Linked DNA regions of Homo sapiens: region 1 is linked to region 2. The links come from fine-mapping of genetic effects on gene expression. A gene starts in region 2. The other region holds a variant in brackets. All regions are shown on one strand. Distances are between the middles of the regions.

Region 1 (12,109 bases), 550 kb after region 2:
CTTTTTCCCCTAGCATAGCATAAAGAATATCCTACAAAATTCATTCTGACCTGAAGTCCCATGATTCCTTCACGCGGATTCTTCTGAAAGAACAGACTATAGTGAGTTTAAGCAAGTATTTGTATGGGTGAAGTGTTTCTTTTAGGGATCACTCTTACATCTTGCAGTCTTTCAACTTTCTCTTGCTTCTCACTTCCCAGATATGAATATGTAAATGGACCAGAAAAGAGTGGGGTAGCTTTCTGACTTTATAACTTCACACTGAAGATAAAGGATAGATGCGTGATAGTATTTTCTCCTTAGATTGCCAACCATTTAAATGCCAAATCTTCTCCCATCTTAACTCATATGAGAATAATAAAAGTCATTTAAATGGAGGTTGCCATGTGTTCATTTATTCAAGAAAACTTTGTTGAACACTTAGTAAGTACAAGGCACCATATTAAGGTAGAAAGGTGAATAAGATAAGTACAGCTCTTTTCTTCATTGAGCTTATGGTCTAGCATCCTTACTAATTCAGTATCTAAAATAGCTAATCACTTGGGTTGTATAATTTAGCATCCATTAGAAGCACTCCAAGAGGCTTGGCTGGGGGGCATTTGTAGGTCACTCAAATGAAATGTTAACTCCTTCTAGGCTTTATTTAGCAAGTCAAACTTAACACCTTCAATATAGGCAATTAGGATCAAAAGGTGTTAAAGCACATTCAGGCACAAAGCCATCTATCAAATTAAATTACTTAATCTTTCAACTAGTTGCTTTTAAAGTAAATGACCCTCCAAAGTTAGTGGGCATTAGTGTGGCCTAATGTTCAAATGCAGTTTAAAATCTAAATGCTGATATTCTAAACAGATCACACTCACCCTCCCATGAAATGTATCCTTGATTTTAGACTTTTCCCCTTAAGAGATGTTTAAAAGTAGGTATCTCCTCTTTCTACAGAGAACAGGGCCATTTTTTTTAGAGTAGTCATCAGTGTGCCATTGTAAGTGGAAATTGTGCATTATGAACTGAACAATTCCAGGAATTCTATGTCTAACCTTGGGTTCTCCCAAAAGTATATCACGAGACAAGAAGTGGGTTCAGGTAGTTAATTATAAGAAGTGCATACAAGAAGGCAGGGGAAGTGAGACAGAGAAGGGAAAAATCCCTAAAAGAATTTTAATAAGCAGGTTATCTCAGTGGACTCCTAGGCCTCAGTCCTATTGAGGACCCTCTGAGCAACCATGTAGAACGTGCTTCAGAATAATTCCATCAGAGAACAAAGTAATATGAAATATTTATCTGCCAACTCTCAGCCATTATGGGTTGCGGGTAATCCCTAGGGCGGTTAAGTTTCAGAGGCTTCTAGGCTTCCCAACAAGCAGGCTGGGCAAGCTGCCACAGTTGCAGAGAAAGCCCTTGCATGGAGAAGCAGTGAAAACAGGCACTTGCAGTGGAAAGTTATCAGCATACTAGGAAGTGTTCACTACACCTACATGTTTATTTAAAGGTGGGCTGAGGGGATATGAGGCGGAGCATCCCCAGCATTGGTACACCCTGCAAATTGCTGTAAACTGGATTTGCTTAAAAAAGAACCATGATTAGCTAACATTTGACAAAATGTTGGTCCATAGGCTTATTTGGAAACAATACTTTGTTTTCTGCAACGCGTCCAAAGAAAATTTGTGTACATGTAGATTTATAGCACTTAAAATCTTATCACAGTAATGTTTATTTCATCGTATCAAAAACTGCATATCATCATTTCTTCTTGCCCATACCCGTGATTTTTCTGAGGGCTAAGAGGAAAAGGGTATTCAATGGAGCAGTTCGCCTCTACAACAGAGAAAACAAGGGATGTTAAGTTCAGGGTGCCATTCATGCCACATTTATTCATTGATGATAGTAATACCTTGTGCTTCTTTACCAGCTTTTCCCATTTGGCCTGATGACAACATCCTTGGAGTGTCAGAGAAGTTATTATGACCTTTACTTTACAGCTGAAGAAACTTTGTTTTGTTAAAACCATGAATTGTGCACTTGGGATGTACTCTATATTGGGTTAGATGTTCTCCCTTAAGATAGTTCAGTTAATCTTGCCCAGAAACTTGGGTATTTTTGTCCTTGTTTTAGGGATGAAAATTCTGATCAGGGACTGGTGGAGTTCCCATGAGGCAAGAAAGTCTGGTAGCAAGACCCAGTTCCTGAAGCTTCAACTTCAGTGTTCATTCCCCTGAAACACTTGACCTTTCCAGGTTGTCACCAGATTCCCCCAACGTTCCCCAACAGATATCTAGTCTTACATGTTACAACTTTCATAGGACCTTGCATGGTACCAAATTTGTTGAGTGAGTACATTCTACACAATCACAACACACTGAAGATATTTTTTATCTGTGCAAACTTGACCTCCATCCAGATGAGAGCTGATTTGATTAAAAGGTTCATGAGACAACACCCGCTGATCAATCAATGTTTTATGTAATCTACTTCCTTCTGCTTTCTACCAGCTTTCACTTGGTTAGTTACGCCTGGGTATTCTACTTATTGACTAGGCTCCAAGGCCACATGTGAACTGGCTTTTCCTTATGTCTACAGCCTCATCTCACAGGGAGCTCCCTCTCATTCTCTCAGGTGTAGCCACATTGGCCTCCTGTTCATCTCTCTTACATGCCGTGCTCTGTGTCATCGGTGCAGCATTGAACATGCTGTTTCCTCTACCAACAATGTTGTTGCCCTTTGTCATCACCAAGTAAACTCCTGCTTATGCTTCAGATCTCAGCTCAAGCATCACTTTTTCAGGGAATCTTCTCTAACTTATCCTCTGTAGACTCTAATAACACTATGTGTCTCTTTGTTGCTATTATTAGAACTTTATAATTTATGTGTGTGTGTGTGTGTGAAGATTTAATCAATATGTGTCTCTCATACCATCTTGCATGATCCATTACAGCAAAATCCTTATTTGTTTGGACTTACCAATGTACCCCCCAGCACCTAGCAGCCAGCTACCATAGGGCCTTACACATGGCAAGCACTCAGTAAATATGTCTTGAATAAAATATATCAATCTATGTTAATAATTCCTCTGAGTTGGACCTAGAGTCTTGTTCTCAGCCCTAGTGTTTCTCACTTAGGAAAGTACTGCCCCACCCTGGGGGCATTTGGAAATGCCTAAGGGTGTTTTCTGGTTGTCAGGATGACTAACTGCAACTAACGGGATTTGGTGGCAGAAGGGATAATGATCATGTCACGTGTGGATAGTCTATCCAAGGAATAATTGTTTCACCCAAAATACCAGTAGAACCCTGTGAAACACTGCAAGAAAGATTATGTATTACAATAGTAGGCATCTAAAGTGTCTAAAAATTGTGGAGTTTGGGGCTTTTAAAATTCTTTATGATATAACTATACATATTTATGGGGTACAGTGTGATTATTTACATGACTTATACAGTGTATAGGCACAAGTTTATGTGTGGATGTGCATATGTGTGTGTGACTGCTCTTTTTAGTTAATCTTATGTCAATTAGTAATTAGTTTACAGATTATTTTCCCAAGTGGTGTCAGAAAGAAGGGCTGCAGGGAAGCAGAAGGAAATGGCGATAGGAAAACTGTCTGACAGATCAGAAATGTTAAACCTAAAAATGACAAGGGGGGGTCCCATGTTAATCTGATTTATACTGCTGATATTTCCCTATATATTTCCTAAGTTCTTTCTTGCTTTTCTATTTTTATCTGGCTTCTTATTTCTTCTCCAGGTTAACTCCCCATTCTGACACGTTCATGTGTTTGCTTTCTTCCTTTTAGTTCAAACAGAGAATTGAGATTAATTTTCTGTACTGTTTGTGTCCAGAGTCACAGCCTGTGGTTGCGATAGAGAAGCTTGCTAAAGCCTGTGTCAGTGTTTCTGTTATACCATGAGAGCAGTCCAAATGTCAGTGGTAAAGTTTCCTTTACTAGACTGAAAAAAATCATTTTCATCATACCTTTCCTGCATCAGATGCCTGGAAAAATACGGGGCAGAGATGAAAACTACTGTAAGATAATGGGACAAAGCACTAGATGGGGACTCCAGACACTGGGGAGCCCTACTGACCAACTCGAAATCATTTAACCTCTTTTGACCTTGGTTTTACCATTTTAAAATAATCAGAAGGCCAGACAAGATAGCCTCTAGGGTCCTTTTCTGATCTAAAATTGAGTTTTCAAGTTTGACAAGGGATAAGGGAGGAGAAAAAAAGATATAGGAGATGTTATCTTGGAAACTAGGTAGGTGTATGCCTTACCATGTATGAAATTGTAAATCATGTCTTATTTCTTTGGAATAGTACAGAAGCTTCTATTCTGGAATAGAACAGCTAGCATACTACCAAGACTTTTCAAGGAGCAAGAATGGAGCTCCCTGGAGAACTGACTGAACATGGCTTCAGAGGCAGTATCCAT[G/A]TAAGTAACTACATAAGAGTTTAAGTGGGCCATGGGGATAAACCCACGCTTTAATCCCACTTTCTGACTGTCTTCTATACACCAGGCTTGTACTTATCCACTCTAAACCATTGTTTCCTCAAGTGGAAAATGGGAAGGATGGTAGCACCCACTTCACAGGATTATGGTAACTAAGTGAAAAAATGTCACATGAAAACATGTCTTAGCACATGGTAAGTGCTCCATAAATAATTGATGTGATTACTATAAGCAAGCTAAACTGATCAAGAATGGAACCATTTAATAAATGATTCTTTGGTTACCAGAATTCTGCCCCCACTGCAACCCACCTCTTCCGGAATGGCTGATAAATGCTTGCATGAAATAGCCACTCAAATGGCTGCTACCAGTCAAATGCTGATAAAAGATATATTTAAAAGGTATTACTTATTACTTTTTATTGAAAAGGTATGATTACTTTTTATAAATTTATTTCTGTTCTTAAAACTGCTACAGATGGTTCTGACTTTTGAATTAATCACACTGATCTAGGAAAAGGCCACATTTACTGTTTAGTCTATCGTGGATTATGGAGCCTCATGTGACTCACTGATAATTTTCTTTTATTATTCCTTCCAGAGACATAGAGACAAAAAGTGCCCTCACTTTTACTGTATTTTGACCTGGACCAGTCTACATTTATATGAATAGCTACAAAGCAGCTTTCAGCACAAGGCTGTAGGGTAGGTTCAGATTTGGCCTCTCCATTAATTAGTAAGTACCATTAGCTGGGCAGACAGCTGCCAAAGGGACTTTCTCCACACTCCCATGAGTTGGTCACAGAGATGTTACTGTACTTTTTTACTCATCACCATGATTAATTGCTGCACTTAGTTCATAATTTCCCCTGGGAGTTAACCCCTAGCTTGGGATAAACACTAAGGTTTTGTCAAATCCTCCCATTCTAAGATTGGAATATTGTTGCATCATCCTGTTGGATGATTCAGGATTTTAAAAGTTCAGAGCACTCTGATATTCCGACAATTATATACACATTGTTTTCAGTCTTCTTCTGCTTTATGATCCTTGTTTATATTTCTTTGTGTCATTCTTTTTAGTAATTATTTCCATCGTTTCTTAAGCATAAACATGTTCTAACTGGCTGTGCGGTAGTGTTTCAATAGAGCTCGTCATTTCTAGGCAAGCTCTTCTAATAATATTTTATATTTTTAATTTATCTCCTTATATTTTGCTGTAATATGGGTTTCATTGATTTTTAAAATGAGTTTTGTTTGTTGTAATATAAGGTTAATTCTGTTATGTGCCAGAATTATACATTTGACAGTTTTCCATGGAATTATTTCAATTGGCAAATTAAATAAACTCAGACTATAGCCTCAGTATTAGTATTCTTAATGGATACACTTTTTAAAAGTAAAGACAAATTCCCTGACCTAAATAGTTAGGCAGAAAATGAGACATGTAAAGTAAAATCAGTATTTCGTTTCTTTGAAACTTTATTGTGACTTGAAACAGTGCAACAAAATATCAGTCTAATGCCATATTACTGATTTTACCAGTGCTGTAATTTTTAAATAATAAATGTATACTTTACTGATTAATGACTTGAGAGCTGCTTACTCTTCATCAACGTAAAACTGCTCTTCAAGTTTCCCATTCCACCTCTGCGGTATCACTTACTTTCAATAAGCTCATCTCTCATTTAATTTAAAATGTAAGGTAGTACATTCAATAGCTCTCTACATCAATTGTTTTTAACTAGATTAATTTATGCCTATGTAAGTATAAATAAGGCCTTGAAGTTGCTTGCGTGATAAATAATAAATAAAATACAAATTGTTGAACAGATCAATGGAAAAGGAAATAAGAGTGGATTAATAAAATAAAACCAGAAGATACAATTAGTTTAAGAAATGCCTACTGTAAAATCCCATTAAATCACTAGAAGTAGAATGTAGATTTGGCTCTGAGCTTCCCAGTAGCCAAAGCAAAAAGAACTGCATTATTTGCAAGGTTGACTGTTTTTGTAATATGTTTTAAGGTTTTGTTTCACAAAAAACCATCTTTTCCTGATATGAGCATGAAGAGATATTTCTCTTGAGAGTCCTGATGAACAGCTTGTTACAGGATATGAAACACATTGTCCTCAACGTCACTCTGACAGTAATTTCGAAGGGAAGTTTCTGTATTTTTGTTTCTCAAAAACGTGAATTGTAGCAGTAATGCCAAAGCAATATTCAGTAACACCAGTTTTACATGTAACCAAAACAATGGAATACAAGTTTGGGAACAATGACATTACATGTTTTATCCAAGAATAATATTTGGCTACTCCCGAAGAATGAATGACCTTTATATTCTTCATTCACAAATATATATTTATGTGAATAAAAATAGAATACAAGTACAACACTATTATATTTTTATTTATTCAGTCACCTGTGATTTGGGGTTCAAAGTATTGACAAGGACACCTGAATTTTTCTCTAATATACTCTGAGATGGCTTTTTTTGAAGTGTTTTTGTTTTGTTTTGTTTTGTTTTGTTTTGTTTTGTTTTGTTTTGAGATGGGGTCTCACTCTGTCACCCAGGCTGGAGTGCAGTGGCATGATCTCAGCTCACTGCAACCTCTGCCCCCTGAGCTCAAGCGATCCTCCTTCCCCAGCCTCCCAAGTAGCTGGGACCACAGATGCACGCCACCACACCCGACTAAGTTTTTGTATTTTTGGTAGAGATGGCATTTCATCATGTTGCCCTTGCTGGTCTTGAACTCCTGGCTTCAAGTGATCCGCCCGTCTCAGCCTCCCAAAATGCTGAGATTGCAGGCATGAGCCACCACACCCAGCCAGCTTTTTGAAGTTTTGGTACAGTAATTACCTGGAGTAAACAAGGTGGTGATACAGGAATACCTGAACAGTGCAGAAGGCTTAAGGAAGTAAAAGGTTAGAATAGATTTATTTTGTGATAACAGTGAACCCACCACCTGACCGTATTCCCCAGAGGGGTCATAGGACAGTTCCTTCACTCAGGCAATAAGAAATGGCAATGATCAACGAAATGTCCTCTGAAGGCTAGGGTAGACAGAAAGACATGCTGCCATGCAATTGGACCTCCTAATATCAATGGAGAAAAGAGGGAAATTCCGGAATGGTAGAGGCCAAAAGCAACACTTAACCTTCAGAGGCAAGGCAGTCTTTGTCTCAGATGCTGATTTTTGGGAAACCCCAAGATAAGACAATGATGAAGGCAAAAACCAACTCATTTTACTGGATTATTTTATTTGTATTGCTACGTAATAATTGTACATATTTAGGGAGTACATGTGATATTTTGATACATGCATACAATGTGTAATGATCAAATAAGAGTATTTAGGATACCCATCACCTCAAACATTCATCGTTTCTTTGTGTTGAGAACACTTCACATTTTCTTTTCTAGCTATTTTGAAATATACAGTAAATTATTGTTAACTATGCAATATAGAATTACTTGCTACTTTACTTATTTCTTAGCACTTACAAGTTTAAATTCACTTAAAATGTTATGACCTAGAAAGGCCTACATATTTTCATTATGACAGTACAGCACTTCATCATTTAGTAAGTCTTTTTTCTGGTTTCTTCTCCCTACCTCCCCATTTTTAATAATTGAAACCACTTTGCTTTTGATCATCCCAAGCACTTAAGTGACATAAGTCTTTCAGCTGCTGGATGAATAATGTATTTATAATATTCATAACTGCGTGTAAAATAAACAGCTCATTTGTTTCTATTAACGTAGTCGTTTTGAAGTCTGTTCTTCCTCTCAGATTCTTTTGCCAATTTAGAAGTGAAAATATATATATAGAAATTGATTCAGTCTTAATGACTCCCACTTAATTCTTCAAACTGGAAAGTAGCTGGGTAAATGACTCACTATGGAACTATTTCTTACCATTACAAATGTTCTCCAGCTACTCTCAGTAAAATACCTTTATAAAACACCTAATATGTGCCCAGTATAATGCTAATTTAAAAAGAACTCCTGGCCGGGCGTGGCAGCTCACGCCTGTAATCCCAGCACTTTGGGAGGCCAAGGCAGGTGGATCACCTGAGGTCAGGAGTTCGAGACCAGCCTGACCAACATGGTGAAACCCCATCTCTACTAAAAATACAAAAACGTTAGCTGGGCGTGGTGGCGGGCACCTCCAGCTACTCGGGAGGCTAAGACAAGAGAATCGCTTGAACCCGGGAGGTAAAGATTGCAGTAAGCCAAGATCACGCCACTGCACTCCTGCCTGGGTGACAGAGCAAAACTCCATTTCAAAAACCAACCAACCAAACAAACAACAACAACAGCAACAGAAAACAAAAACTCCTTAAAGCTACTCAGGATTGGATATAAATTTTATATAGACATCCCCAAAGATGTAAGTACTGAGATATAATCCCTGAAAAAAGATAGTTACATACATTTGGATCAACAAAAGTGTTTGACTATCTTTGCCCTGGCCTCAGGTAGGTCTATAAGAAGACTTTAAGGATAAACCAAAGGTAATAATAAATAAGTTAACATACACTGGAAGGATAAGCACTGGGAAAACTGAGCAAGGAGTGAAGTTTATCTTTAATCTCCCTCTTCCCCTTTCTGTATCTTCTAGTATCTGAGATCCCTGCTATCTGTCAAAAGCCTATTGGGCATTTCATTCCAGACCAGTCACCCCCTCAGTAAAGCTTTACACCATAATAGGTGTGTGTTAGGAGCTTGGTGCCAGGGGATCTTGAAAACTGAGAGACCTCTAAACCCCAAAGCTATGATTCTGTAATGGGGTGATTTCAAGCATTGCTGCAAGTTAAAATTTTAGGGTAAAAAAGCATTATTCCTTAGGATTTGCCAAGCACTTTTTGTACCTAGAGGCAAAAGAGCCCTAAAATCACTTCTCCATGAAACTTTCTTTGACACAGAAACTTAGAATTGTCCTGTTAAATCTTAACAGCTAATGGTGATCATCTGGTGGTTGTGTGATTTTCTTATAAAACACAGCTTTTTTAGGATTGTTTGAGTTTTCCAGTGTGTCTTTCTTGCAAGTATCCTCTCTTATTTAGAACATAATCTTGGCAAGAAGCTGTGTGACTATTTGCCTTGACTTGCTTGGACCAAACACAAGCAGTCAAAATAAATTTAAAAGATGAAAATGATGATTCATTTGAGGTATTTTTTTAAGGTCCTCGCATGTGTCCTAGAAACTAGGTTCTTTGACACTATTTCATTTTGGGGGTCAAAGAAGAGAAAGCTCCAGGATCTGTCAAATTAGTTTTTAAAGGAATATGTGTAAGAAAGCTAGGGAAGGATTTTTTTTCCCCAGTAATGTATGCCATACCACATTTAAAATAAGGAGCAGTAAATGCATGGAGTAATATTTTGTATGCACAGATGGATATATAAATTAGTACCTCCTATTTTAAATGGAATGCTTCCAAAAGTCTTCTATTCTTCCTTCCTGGAACAGGCAGTTCAGGGATGACATAGAGACTAATAGATGGAGTGTTTTAGAAGGGATTTAAGCCCGGGGTGAATGGTTGGACTAACCGACCATTAAGACCATTTCCAAACCAGATGTTCTATGATTTTATGAAACCATATATGAAGCCTATTATCATGTTTCTAGGTTTCTTTTTCAAAATTAATTATATTAAGTTCACAAATAATTTTCCTAGCATGCTTCACATTGTCTCAAGCTATGATATAATGTTTGGTTGAGTTTTAGTTAAGAGACCATGTGCGTTTAAAAAAAAAGATATATACATAGTACCTAAAACTACCAGAAAAACAGTGATGACTGGAAATCTCACTTATTAACATCTTTAGTAGAAACAATACATGGTACAGAGGGTTAAAGAAAGATAAGACGTGTATGCTTATGGAGAAAAGGGGTCACGCTAACCAAGAACTTTTTTATTTTTGAAAGACACAAGGTAAGGTTTATGACAGGGAGCCCATCAGTCTTAAAATCATGCTTTCTGACTCAAATCTAAATATCAGTATTGAATATTGTGTTATAATGAATAACACTTGCACCGCCTTGTTTGTTTCAAACAATATGATGTTATCAAACACCACTCTCAGTATGTCAATAAATACAATTGTGTATACTTCAGTTATACAGAGAGTTAATATAAGTTCAATAACTGGCATATTTGTTATTAAATAGGATTGTAATAACAGGTCTTGGTGTTTCTGGACTGTAGCACAGCTAGGTGAATCGTCCTCCCTGACATTGAGCATCAAAAAGTCTTTTTACTTGCCACTCATTTTGCAAGGTCTCAGGGGACAGACGTTTTGCAAACTCTGTGAAATCTTAATAACAGCCTAAAGGAGAGATTGCAAATGTAAATGAACAGCCACAGCCCCTTTAAACATGACTATATCACACAGATGCTATACATAGCAGCTGAAAGCCAAATAATGGTTTGAACTGAACATGACTGGACGATTAAGGTCACCTTCCGCAGCTTTATAAGCAGTTTCTTATTATAATGGTCTTCTGACATTTTTTCTCCTATGACATAATTGTTGCAAGAGGTTGACATTCTCATTGGCTCATGGGAACATTTCCTTCTTTCATTTGCCTTTTAGTCATGTGTCTGAACTTTTATTTGGTATTTCCTCTTTACAGTGAATCCTAATATCAATGAGATTCAATACAATAACTTTTCTAGAACTTGATTGAAGGTATTGGTGTTTTTTTCAAGTATTTGCTACTTATTACTGGCTATACCTTTTTTCTTTAAAAGTATACTTTTCTATTTATGATGGACAATTTGAAAAATATAAGAAAATGATCACCATGATCTCATGATCCAATGAGCTAAAATATTGTATTTTAAATTCTTTCAGAACCTGTTCTATGCATATATGCATATAAAAATGAAGTTTGACTTACTGCAAATAAGTTTATCTTGCTTTTGCCTTTTTATGATTGGTTATTTTATATATAACAAGAATATCATACACACGTGAGATATGTGAATAAGGGTAATATAAATACCCCTGAACTCACAATCATGCTTGAGAGATGCAACATTTGAAGTTCCCCATGGGCACCCTATATTGCCCTCTCCAACACTATCCCCTTCTCTATCCCACTCCCCAAAGTGGACACTCTTCTCAATGTGGAGTGACTGCTCTGTCAATTTTCTTTATATTTTTGCTACACTGGCATGGTGACTCTCAAATAATGATACTGAACTTTAGGAAATCTTCTGCAACTTTTTTTCACTCAACATTTTGTTTATGAGAATCATCCATTTTGAAATATATGAACATTTCACTTCTATATGGTATTCCCTATTGAAAATATACCATTTTTATTTATCTGTTTCATATCAATGGATGTTTAAAAGCATTAGTATGAACACTTCCCTATCAATGGATATTAAAAACAACAGTGGTATGAACATTTTCACCCATATCTCTTAATGAAAATGTGCAAGTGTTTCCTTAGGGTCTAAATCTAAAGTGCAATTACTGGGTTGCAGGACGTGCTCAAAATTCAACTTTATTAGATAAAAATATTTTACCAGAATGGTTCTTCCAATTTATACTTTCCCTAGTAGCATAAAAGTGTTCCTGTTATATCTTGCTTTTATCACTTAATATGATTAGCTTTTTCTCAAGTTCAGATGGTCTGTCTTTCTC
Region 2 (13,052 bases):
TTTAACATTATTATTATGACAGGGTCTTTATTTTATTCCTCTGTATGAGTCAAGGTAGGATCGGTGTCATAACAAACAATTCCAAAAATCTCAGTGGCTTAATACAATGAGAGTTTATTTATTGTTCATGTCAGATTTTAACTCAGATAGGGAATGTGGGTGATTCTATTCCACTCAGTCCTTCAGGGATCCAGTCCCTGTCCATCATGTGGTATAGATCGCTTTCGCCCAGATTTCATTGGCTAGACTCAATGACATAACCACTCCTAACTGTAATCCAGCTGTATGCTCAGGAGGAAAAAAAAATGGTGCTTTGTGAATGCATAGTAGTCTCTGTATTACCTCCCTTAAATTGGAATAATATGCAATAAAAAGTCTGAACTCTTCTAGATTGTTTCTTAAAACAGAAACTCACCATTAAAATTAGAAGAATGGTTATGTAGTAAACATTTTGGCTTTGAGGTGTCCCCAGTACATACTTGGGCATTTCAAATTGGTTTTGGGGAGACTGAGGGTTGCTGAGCTGTAGGGGCCTTGATTCATGGTCCCACATCATCACATGGAATTCTATGGGGCAGTGATTTCTGACCTGAGGGCTCCCATTCCTGAAAATTCTCAAAATGGATCCATGAATCCACATGCAAAAACACATCGAAATCAGCCACTGAGCCAGGACAGGGGACATTACATAATGTCCAAGAGCACAATACTGCTCTTTGTTAATGATGCACTTCTAGGAATTGGGTAGTGTTTCTTGGAGTCTGTTTATGATGTCGTCTACCAAACTGAAGGGTGTTTGGGGAGGAGTGACTAAGAGAATGGGGACACTTCAAACCATATCATTCATTCCACAGCATTGAAAGCCTTCCACGTTTTATTCACTGTGGGCTGGAGGTATGGGGAGAACAAAAGCAGCAGTGTTTCTGCCTTCATGGAACTTAATAATGGTGATAATGAACAAGGGAAAAAATGCGTGAGCATGTTAAATTGAACTAGTTATAAATTCATGAAGAAAATAAAATGAGGTGCTAGGGGCTATCTGGTAGGGGCGGAACTTCATTAGCTGGAGTAAGTCAAGAAAGTCTTGCTGAGGAAGTGAGATATTTTAGTGGCGAGCTGGATGATAAGAAGGATCCAGCCATGTGGGAAAGAACATTCCAGATAAAAGCTCTAAGGTGGGAATGACCTTGCTGTGTTCATGTAACAAAAAGGCCAGCGTGGCTGGAGTCCTGAGCAAAGGGGAGGAGTGGTGAAGAAGCAGTCAAAGATGGGCTGCGTCCATCTCGTGGTGTTTGGATTTCATTCCAAGTGTGATGAGAGTTTTAGGTAGGAAAGTGACATAACTGGCTTTACATTATTAAAATGGCATTCTGGCTGCCATGTGGTGAATGGACAAAACAGGAGCTGGGTGGCACATTGCCCCAGAAGACGGGAGTATAGTGATTTTGCTGCTGGGGTCTGTGTTCTACGACGTTTTAACCCTAGGTTCTCATAAGAAACATGGACGGTGCAGCTGCAGGACTGATGTGTGAGCAGCTTTGCAATCTGCTGTGTCAAAATAGAAAGCTGCACTCTGGTACGCAGGGATGTCCCTTCCACTACACCCTCCTTCTTTCCCGAGGCAAATTGCTAATTGCCATCAGCAATTACTTAGCAAGACTAAGACTAATTAACTTAATCTTATTATGAGAGGTCATATTCTGGCTAAAGTGCCTTCCTAGCCTCCCTTCCAGCTGGAGAGTGGCCAATGAGATATAGGCAAAACATGTTGGGTGGGACTTATGAGCAGACTCTGTAAGAGGCACAGTTCTGCTTGGAACATACATGTGATGGCTGGAGATAAAGATAAATCCTGGGCTGCGGCAAGCTTGAGGATGGAAGCCAAGAACTCAGCAGGGTGGGGAGAAAGGTAAAAGGAACTCAAGTCCCTGATGACAACATGGAGGTGTCCTGCATCCCTGGATTGCCTGGTCCACACTTTTTTTATGCAAATGAAAAAGAAACTTCTATCTTGTGTAAACCACTTACATTTTTCTTACTAGTAGCCAAATATTAATACAATTGCTAATTAATCTGCTTCTCCTCCCTAGCTGAAACTACTTTTTGAAACAGCATTTCCTAACTTCTGTGACACGCTCTGTGACAGTTTCTTTGATTAGATAAGTTTGGTAAATGCTGTGTGCTAGGCCTTCTTTGATCACCTTATTTAAACACTACCCAAAGTGCGCTCCTTTTACCCTCTTCCTGCTTCATATTTTCCCGTGTTCCTTATCATGATCTAACATACCATATGCTTTATGTATGTTCTTTATTACCTGTCTCTTGTACCTCTCCCTGAAATTCAAAACCAAGGACTAATTAACAAGGAGGAGAGAGGACAAAGTTCCTGATTCTCCCCCGTCTCTTGTCAAGCTGGAACATTTTGTCTGGTGTGAACTTGTCAGGAGATGGCTCCCATTTTCCTGCTTCTGGCACTAATGATGAGTTTCCTAGATTGTCTTGGTAGAGGTCAAATGATGAAGGGGAGAAAAGCTGTGTCCAGCATTCTCTATCTGAAGGGAGCTGGCAGCAAGCGATGCTGAGATCTTGAGCAGATGACCCCAGATAGGGTGTGACATCTCCACTTCCAGGAAAAGGAAGGCATTTTTTTTTTTCCTGGTCTGGACATGTTGTGCTTTCAGGGTCACACATCCCTGGGCTGTCCATTTACTTCAGAAATGCCCCCAGTTGTTAGTGAGGCAAGATGCTTGGGAGGTCAGGCCCTGGATCTAATCTGGGAGGACAGGCCTTTTATTCTGGTTCTGCAGCCTTCACACCTCCTCAGGGGAAAGCTATTGGCCTGCTCTTGTCCATCTTCCTCCCCTTCCTTGCTGCTACTCAATTTCTGCAGTTGTGAAAGGGAGATAGAAAAGTCTGAGATCTGCCTGCTCCACAGTAGTTTAGAGGAAATGAATCGAGCAACGAAAAAAATCTCAGCTTATTGTTTTTCAATAATATATTGCTGCTTAACAAACTATTCTGAGACTTAGTGGCTTAAAATAAAGCAATTTATTATTTCTCTTGGTTTAATACAAGTACAAGACAAGATAATGTATGTAAAGCCCCGAGTAGAGTGCCAAACACAGAGTTGGCACTCGATAATTGTTAGGCCTTACCATGAAAATGACCTTGCCCAGGAGAATGTCCTGAGACCATGTGTTATTGTGAAATTGCATATTGGAGCAGCACAGGAGAACTGTTGCACAGCTTAGCACTAGGGCTGCCCCTATGGTGTGCAAGGCCGCTGGCAAATATTTGGTGTGGGGCCTCTATTTATGTAAGCAGTTCAATTAAAAATGTATCACAAAAATTCATGTACCAATGAGAGGTTTAACATTTTATTGATGAAGATTTAGAATAATAGGTAGAGATGCAGTATTTGCATATGTGTTTATTGCCACATCGATGCACATGAGGATTCTTTGTCACGTCCAGCCATCATGTCTTCTTGTTCAGGTCTAGGTACCATCTATTAGTGTTTTATTTTGTTTTGTTTTGTTTTTACTGTTAAATGCACTGGATAATATTACCTTGCCCCCTACCCTTCATGAGAAAGAGGTAGCAAGAGGTGATAGTACTCACAATGCTATGGGTTATTGGAACTGTTCGTATTGAAATCACGTAGATCTTCTTGCCCTACGGTTCCCTAGAACCCTTTATTTAATGCTGGCTACTTCATTACTCATGATACGGCATCATCTATCGTGCTGCCACAGGTATTGTCTTCCAATGACTCTCTCAGAGGTTTTTTTTTTTTTACCATGTTTTGTTGATGCTGGACAGTCTTATCCAGAGTATGCAGGAAAATATGAGTGATAAATCATTTTTCTGGTCATGTTAAATTTACCATTCAGAATTTTATAGTGTACATGCACAAAGACACGTTTTCCAACCATGTCATCTCTAGAACTCTTTAGGCCATAATCACTGTATTCCTAGCATGTGATCTCTTTCAATGTTGAGCAGATCTTGGGTGCCAGTGGTAGAGGTGAAAAGGGTAAAGTACTCCTGCTGCCACCTCTGTAAACCAGAGGCGGAATCTAGATGGACGAGTTGACACATGTACCTACACATGTGGCTCAAGCCTCTTTCTGCTTTACCTGTAATTTTCCCTTTCCTTGAATAAATGTATTGGCCAGAAAAATGAAGAAGGTTCTATATCAGTCAGTCATAGCATTGATGCACGATGCTACTACAGGGTAAGGAGGGTTTGAGGAGGGGACGGTTTAAGGAACTTAAGTGAAGAGGGGTTTCTTATTAGCATTTGGCTGTATTAGCTCTTCGAGGAGGACACTGGTTTGGCCAGGGACTCTGGTGGCAGCTTCTTAGAAATGATCTCCATTGCTAAGTATGCAGAAAGAAAATATTAGAACTCCTATTTATATTTACTTATGGTTAAAAAAATAAGAAAAAAATAAACTTCACGAGTTTAGGGTTGCCAGATAAAGTATAGGAGGCCTAGTTAAATTTGAATTTTTACGTAAACAATTTTTTAGTGTATGTCCCAATGGGGACATATTCACTTATACAGAAACATAGATATACATATACGTAGATACAGATATGTCTTATATTTGTGTGTATCTCATATAGCATACAGATATATGTTTTTTACACATGTTGTTATCACAGATAGTTATACAGATATTAGTTTTTTATGACAGGTATTATGAGGTTGTAAAATAACCTCACTTGTTCCATTTGGATCTATGCGTCTTTGTGGGATCTCTCTCGCTCTCTCTCTTTCTTTTTGTGGGGGCTGTCACAGCTTTAAAAACCAAGTATCAAAAGAAACTGAATTTAGCACAATACCTCTAAATTAAACTAAATCAAAAAATAAAAGCGCTAGTTTGATAATATTTCTCTCCTTAAAAATGTCAGATTTTTCCAGTGAGAGTAAAAGTGACTTTTGTGCCTTTAATAAATGAAACAAAATTAAACCTAATTTTAAAAATATTGCATTTTCATTTGAACGCTTTTAAGATTTCAATTTTGGGAGCATGTTTTGTAATGTGATAATACAGTAGTATATTAGAAGGTATATCTATATATATATATGCACATTGTAAATAGAGATATGTGTATTTGGAGGCGTGCAAAGATGTTGTATGTGAATAGGATGCTTGACCCCGAAAGTTTGGAGACTCCTGGCTTAAAGTACTGCGTTAGAAAAGATGTGGTATGCATGTTGGTCTTAATGGAAGCAACTACTGATCTTAAGAATAATTCCTTGTTCTTTTTTTTTTCTTTTGAGACAGAGTTTTGCTCTGTAGCCCAGGCTAAAATGCAGTGGCAGAATCTCGGCTCACTGCAATCTCCGCCTCCAGGGTTCAAGTGATTCTCCTGCCTCAGCCTCCCGAGTAGCTGGGATTACAGGCACGTGCCACCAAGCCCAGCTAATTTTTTGTATTTTTAGCAGAGACAGGGTTTCACCATGTTGGCCAGGCTGGTCTCGAACTCCTGACCTCAAATGATCCGTCCACCTTGGCCTCCCAAAGTGCTGGGATTACAGGCGTGAGCCACCACGCCCAGCCCGTGGTTCTTAAGTTGCAATCACTAACACTCTTTTGGTTGAACAGACTGCAAAATTTCACCAGATTTATACTTAGATGCCCAGACAGGAGACATTTGGAAGCCCTTCAACTTCCTGTGTAAAACCTCAGAAAGAGTGACCACACTGCTTGGGAGAGTAACTCAGAATCGTCTGTGGCAGAGACCTGGAGGTTTACAAGAACACCTCATTCCTTAGTTCCTGGCTGCCTGGAATTCATAGGGAATTTGCCAAGTACATTGTACCTCTGTATATCTAAAGACTGGGTAGGGAAGGGCAAATGGCAGTGGAGCGTGAAAACCAGGTCCTTTTCCAGCACCTCTCTCCCGGGGCAATCACATCCTGGGCTGGCGGCTTCTGCTTTGCCGCGGGAGCCTCTGAAGGGCACAACCCATCCTGGCAGCCATGAAAACAGGTGGTCCCAGCTGCTGGATTTGTTGCTCTGTAAATCAGCAATAGGCATCCATGGGATGGTGATGTGACTCACTCCAGGGCCCAGGGTGGCAGGGAAGCACTCATCCCAGCCAGATCCCCCAGCATGCTTCAGGGGTGAAGCAGCAAGGCCCTCACAACTGCAGCGAGAGAAGAGGCTGGCAGCATGGGTGGCAGGAGGCTTGGCAGCCTCACAGGATGCCTGCAAATACCTTTCACTTATGCAGTTTGGCAGTGCAGTGGTGCATGGAGACAGCGTCTTGGGCCTGGTAAGGAAATAATTGGCTTCAGAAGCAGACTTCTTAGGTTGCAGTCTTGAGACTGAGGCTTCAAACAGTGTGGGAAGGGCCGTGACATTTCCAGAAACCCTTCTCTTTTGCTGGCCAACAGATGGTGGCTCTAAATCTGCAGTGCAGTCAGGTTAGAAAAGAAGAAAGTATTTAGGGCGCTAGTAGAGCCATTATTTGAATAGTATGGAACATAATGGTTTCTTTGGTAACCAAGCCAGGGAGACACCCACACAAAGTTAGAATGCGCTGGGCTCGTTTCTGTTCCCCACCCCACCCCCTAATCCCACAAGATTAAAATAGTATAAAGAGAAAAATGAGATGCAGCAGCATTTCACACAAGAGGGGATTTGTTCCCAACGAGAATGTATTAATGACCTGTCTCTTATTTTGTGGGCAACCAGATATAGCAGGTTTTTAGTTATGAATCTGTGTTCATGGTCACTCAGATGGTTTACTCTCTGCCCAGACTTCAGCACTTATATATAGATGGGGCACTGAGAAATATGAGATAGGGAAAAAAGAGAAACATTTAACCCATTCCACACTGCACATATTCTTAGTGCTAACCAGGCGGAGGCAGCATAGAAAAGGCAAAACGCGTTTGAAAGGAAACCATTTGTCTTTGAAGAATAATTTCTCTTCAGCTCGATGAGTAATCTCTCTTCTAGCTGATAAAGTTCCAAATCCCTACTCTGGGTGAGGCTTTGAAAGTGTCAAATAACAGGATTCAGATACAAAGAGTCAAAAGACCCCCTCAGATTCATACTGCCGTCCAGTAGAATTTTCTGTGATGATGGAAATAGTCTATATCTGAACTATCCAATGGAGAAAGCACTGGCCTCATGAGGCTATTTATATTTTAATTTTAAGAAATTTAATTTAATTTAAAATTTAGTTCATCGGTTTAAATTAAATAGCCATATGGGGCTAGTGGCTACTGGATTGGAGAGTGCAGTTAGAAATTCAGAAAGTGGATGATTTTCATTACTGTAAAATCACCAAATAGTAATTTTGTCCTTCTTGTTTCACTTTGCTATTTTTTATTCTGATGTCAGCCTTGCTTGTCTGGAAGTCACCCCATAGGTTACCATAAGCAACATTTTACTTAACTGTTCTAATAATAGTGTTTCCAGGGGCCCTGAGCACTCCGCAAACATCATCTCATTAATTCCTCCAAACTCCCAATGGGACAGGTATGGAGTACAGATAATTATGTTTAATTTTATAAAAGAGAAAAACAAACAGTAGCCTCAAAATGTAAATTATTCGCAGTAAAGGGCCTTCTGGAATCCCAATGTTACCTCGTTGGCCTTTCATTGTCCTTTATAGTAGGAACTTAGCGTTTTCTCCTATCAGGGTGAACCATTCATCAAACATGTTGGGAATAAATGAAAAACCTACTGCATCTAGTTATAGATGGAATATGGTTTGCTTAACATTAGGTTTAAGCAGCTAAATATTTCTTTCCTTCTCATTTCTACTGTAAGACTTGAGACTATACTTTACTCCTAGGTAACCAAGATAATTAGAAATGTGCTGCTTGTCTAGAGTAGCAAATCATCCTCAACTTTTTTTGCCCTCTTTCATGCCTCTTTCAAGGATATAATACATGTACTTTTTTTAAAAAATGCTTCTTTATACATGGTGCTTATGAGAGTGACCAGGAAGCATATGGTAATATGCTAACCAGACAGTCCTAGGAATTGAGGAGCTCTATGAAATGCTTTGATTTGTACAATGGACATTTATGAAGCCCCTACTTTGAGTCAACAAGTGTGCCTGGGACTGTGGATACAAAGTCGGTAAAACCAGACAAAATTCCAACCCTTGCGTTTAAGAAGCTAAGAGACATTGATCAAATAATCAAGACAATATATGTAAAATTTCACCTATAGCAGGTGCCGTGGTGGGAAGGTACCTGAGCTTGTAATGGGGAGAGTTGACACAGTCAGGGAACCAGGGATAACCTGTCTGAAATTGGGGCCAAGAGCTAAAGGCTGAGTAGGAATCAACTAGGTAGAGGGCAGGTTGAGCAGAGAGTTCTAGGTAGAAGAAGCAGCATGTGCAAAACCCTGAGGTAACATGGAGCACGGTGAACATGAGGGACTGAAAGAATGCTGTTTTTGTTTGTTTGTTTGTTTGTTTTTGAGACGGAGTCTCGCTCTGTCACCCATGCTGGAGTGCAGTGGCGCAATCTCGGCTCACTGCAACCTCCGCCTCGTGGGTTCAAGCGATTCTCATGCCTCAGCCTCCTGAGTAGCTGGGATTACAGGTGCCTGCCACCACGCCCGGCTAATTTTTGTATTTTTAGTACAGACAAGGTTTCGCCATGTTGGCCAGGCTGGTCTCAAACTCCTGACCTTAGGTGATCCGCCTGCCTTGGCCCCCCAAAGTGCTGGGATTACAGGCGTGAGCCACTGCGCCCGGCCAGAAGGCTGTTTTTGGGGAAACATATAGAGGAAAAGTGAGCAAGGTACAAGATAGGATTGGAGAGGTTGGCGGAAAGCAGACCAGGCAACACCCTCAGGCTACTTTAAGGAGCTATGTTTTTACCTTACAAGCAATGGGTTCCATTGAAGGGTTATTGGGTGGAGGTGGAGGGTGTAGCCCATGAAAGATGTACATTTTCAAAAGATCCCATTGGTTTATATTGGAGAGTAGAGAACAGTTTGGATCATAGTTATACCAGGAGGTGGTGAGGAGCAGGCTTAGATTTGCAAAGACCATTCATTCTTTGCACCTGGATTTATTTTGAGCCTATCAGGCAGCCTCAGAAGTTGTACTTAACCACATTCCTCATCTATTGCATGATGTCTTTTGGTCTATTAGGGTGCTCTTATTTTTCTAGTAGGCCTAACCTCAGCAATGGTAGGTGGTGGGGAGTGGGGAAGTTCTGACCTATATAGTGTTGTAAGAATATCTTCTGTGACTGGTGATTTCACCATCTGAGGGTTTTTCCTTTTTTCCTCTTTGTTGCTCGTTTTTTCCAGAAAAGGTAAACACTATTATTTCCTTTTTTCACTTTGATGTCTTGAATCCTTCAATATATGCTGAGTTAAAAGTACTGTTTCAAATTCCTTTTCCACAAGGTTTTTATCTTACTGTGTTCCAGGCTTGTGAGACCAACTATGAATCTGATATAAGAGTTTCTGGGTTCATGCTGAAAGTATAACGATTTCAGGTGATTTGAATAATGAAATAGGAAAAAAGGTCCTGAAGTTCCATTGTGCTTTTTTGTATGTGTGTTTATTATAGTCCTTATTCATTCTGACTTACATTACAGTTATTTGCGCATGCATATGCAGCTCTTTCTACACCCCCACTCACCTTTGCCTTTACCTCCTACTCATTCTTCATATTTCACACCATCATCACTTCTTCCGGGAGGCCTTTCCTGACCTTTTTGAGTAGGAAGCTTCCCTTTCTTATACGCTTTCATGACCTGTGGTCACATGTGTAACTTCCACTCACTCTTCTGCTGTTTGGCCCGTGTCTGTCTGCTGAATGAGGAGGTCTTTGGGGGCCTGAACCTTGCCCTTGACTGAGGTCACTATTGGACCCACTGCACAAGCATAGCACCTGCTCACTCAATGTTTGCCAATGAATGGATGACACTTACAGAAATGTTCTTTAGGTCGTGGCTTTTTTTTTTTTAAATGTTTGACCTATTTCTTCCAACACTTGAAGAACTGACATAAAACTTGTATTATTGATTTCAGTCATCTCACATGTAATTTTCAGCTGAGATGCCAATATTCAAGTGGACTTAGCTTACCACTTGAAATATATTAAATATAGTCCATTTAAAATGGGAAAAGTATGTTAAGCAGCATAAAATATACAGGAATATAGTGAAGTGGTTAAGAGTACAAACTCTGAAGCCATACTGTTAGAATCTGAAATCATGGTTTTCTAGCTCCGCTCTATACCTCAGTTTCCTCATTTGCCAAATGGGGATAATAATAATACCTATTTCAAGTAATTGTTATGAGGATTAAGTGAGTTAATTTATGTAAATCACTTAGAGCAGTGCCTTGCATATGTGTTAGCTATTATTACTTCGTAGTTATTATTATTAAAAAGGACAGGTGATGTCATACTCATTAAGCCTGTGTAGCAAAAATGTTCAAGTTCTTCCTCAGCTTCTTTTTTATAAGTTGAAAATGAGCAGTTTACATTATTCTGTTTATGTTTTTGTTCAATACACTGATTTGATTTTTTTCAGTTCCCACGTTTTAGTATCATTCAGATGGTAATGGAATTAGATTGTTTTACCACCGAAGTTTATTGCAAATGCTGGAAGGCTAGGGAAAACTAGGGATACTGAGATGACACTGATAGCATCAAATAATTTGAGCAGCTTAAAAGAGGGTATAGGGGCCTCAAGGCTGCTGAATTGGGCTCCCCAGGAGAAGTGAGTGGGTGTGTATATACGTGTGTGTTGAGGGGGCGGTGCGGAGGTTACTGGACTGGAGGCAATAGGTTTATGTGTACATATTTTAAGCTTTTAATTAGAGGATAACAACCATGTAGAAAGGTGTATATGTATGATAAGTGTACAGATTGAATTTTTACACGTGAACACACCCACAGAACTAATGCCCAGATCAAGAAAAACAGAATATAACCAACAGCCCAGAAGCCCCTTCCAATCACTAATCCCCCTAACACTAATTAGTATCCTGACATCTAACCCTGTAGGTTAGTTTTGCATATCTGTATTCTTCATTTGGATAGAATCATGTAGCATATACTCCTTTGTGTATGGCTTTTATTCTCAGTACAATATATGTGAGAGTATTCTATATTGTTGTGTGTAGTTGTATGCTATTCAATCCTATGCTATATGTTATTCCATTGTGTGCAAATGTATTTTTCCATTCCATTGTTGATGGGCATTTGGGTGGCTTCCAGTTTGGGGCTACTGTGTGCTTCCTTGAACGTTCTGATGTATCATTTGGTGCACATATGTGTGTATTTCTGTTGGGCATAAGTCTAAGAGTGGAATTGCTGGGTCATAAGATATGTAAGTGTTCAACTTTAGTAGATTTTATGTGTATTTTTTCAAGTCTTAGAGGTGATTCCGATTCCTAGCCAAAGCTGAGAACCACTGATCTATAATATCTGCCCAAAAGCAAGGTTTAAGGCCACACTATCAAAGCTTGGATGAGCTCATTAAAGATGTAATATTTAAGAAGACGAACTACAAGGATCATCCACACTAACTCACAGATAATGCCAATATCTGTTGCTTCAATAGTTACCTTGCCTTCTCCATAGGGGTCGAGGTGGGTGGGTTAATGCCAGATCCTGGCTCTCTCATTTTCTTTTCTCCCTTGGTTTGACCCTGATTTCTCTCAGGTTCAGCAAAGTGGAATGCCAACCAAGAACTGGGACTGAGGGAAAGCACTGCCAAGCACTGTTAATTATTAATGAAATGAATTTGCATCAGACCAGAGGGGATTAAAGCAGCTTAAAATGAATAGCAAGTTCTTGATAAGGCTTTTCCTATTCTCAGGTGACTGGAATGATGCACTCGTGTTGGAGCACATTAATTTAATAGAAGCACTGCTTCCCCCTGTACAGCGTGGAGCTGGATGTAAGCCCAGCCCAGGGACAGCAGGTTCCTAAGCAATTTCTGCTTATATGGCTGTGGCGAAATGAAGTGACGTGAACACAACATGCTGGACTGAAAAAATGCATTAAACATACCTCAAAGCAAAATGTCCTTTAATGATACTACCACAAGCACTGGGGAGAGAAAAGGACCTTGTTGTATAGTATCAACCAGATTGCAGTTCAAACTCCAGGTCAGCTTTCCCGGCTGTAAGAACTTGGGCAAGTTACCTAACCTCTCAGAGCCTTTGAGTTCTTCATCTATAAAATGGGATAATCATATGTACCTCAAGAGACTGCATTTAAAGTGCCTGGCTCATGAGAGGCACCCAATAAATAGCAATTATTATTGCATGTGGTGCTGTGAGCAAAACTGAGAATATAACCATGTGGTAGAAAATAGCAGTGGAGAAAACGTGGTACTCTAGAAGCTAGCCTTCCGACAGATGGCAGGCCCATATTGAAAACGGAAATGTTTCCTGCTGCTACAAATCCAAAGAAGGTCTTCGAGTCTATGTAAAATATAAAGGGATGGGCTACCAGAATTTTCTATTAGTTCATTGCACACACTTGCACACACAGGCACACATACATACCAAGAGCGTATGGAAAGTTAACTATTCTTGATGACTGGTAAGAATGTCAGAGTAGCTCAGCAGGGCCTTCTAGATACATGAGTGTTAAAATTATGAGTTTCCCTTGAAGGATACTGTCCCCAGTCAAAGGAAAGTCACTTAGGTATTCGTGTTCTGCTCCGGGTAATTCCAGTCCTCCTTGGCCACAGCTGACTGGACGGTGAATGACTGTGAAAGCTGGGGCCCTTTAATCTATCTTGCTCATCTTCTAAGATCTAGTTTAACTGTCATTATTTACAGAATGCTTTCCCTAACTGTTTAAGCCATTAGGATGGAACTGACTTAGCTGGGATTGTGATATGATGGGAAATGGCTAACAAGCAGAGGGACAGACTGGTTATTCTATCTAAGCCTTAGATGCCAACTGACATGCCAAGGATGATGCTAACAGTAGTGTGACATTTACTGAGCACTTATTTTGTTAAGGAATTGAGCTCAATACTTCTCATGCATGATTTTTTTCTGATAACCCATTAAAAAAGATATGAT

Alleles and levels. Positions count from the first base shown, and alleles are read on the strand shown. Sizes are in standard deviations (SD) of each study's normalised expression.
As copies of G replace A in region 1, the expression in sigmoid colon of the gene that starts at base 6,159 in region 2 goes down (small effect, 0.31 SD a copy in GTEx).

What was found.
Region 1: its variant is fine-mapped to the expression of PTCHD1-AS in sigmoid colon (GTEx, PIP above 0.99). The same link has a PIP of 0.9 or more in cerebellar hemisphere and prefrontal cortex.

Annotation. Positions count from the first base shown.
Region 1 is chrX:22,735,549-22,747,657 of GRCh38, reverse strand. It overlaps PTCHD1-AS (PTCHD1 and PHEX antisense RNA), which reads left to right. Exons shown (of 12, transcript NR_073010.2): 4 at 4,320-4,429. Among named protein-coding and RNA genes, the nearest start is that of DDX53, 260 kb to the left of the region's middle. The variant G/A (reference allele first, on the strand shown) is at 4,430.
Region 2 is chrX:23,286,253-23,299,304 of GRCh38, reverse strand. It overlaps PTCHD1-AS (PTCHD1 and PHEX antisense RNA), which reads left to right and starts at 6,159. Exons shown (of 12, transcript NR_073010.2): 1 at 6,159-6,291.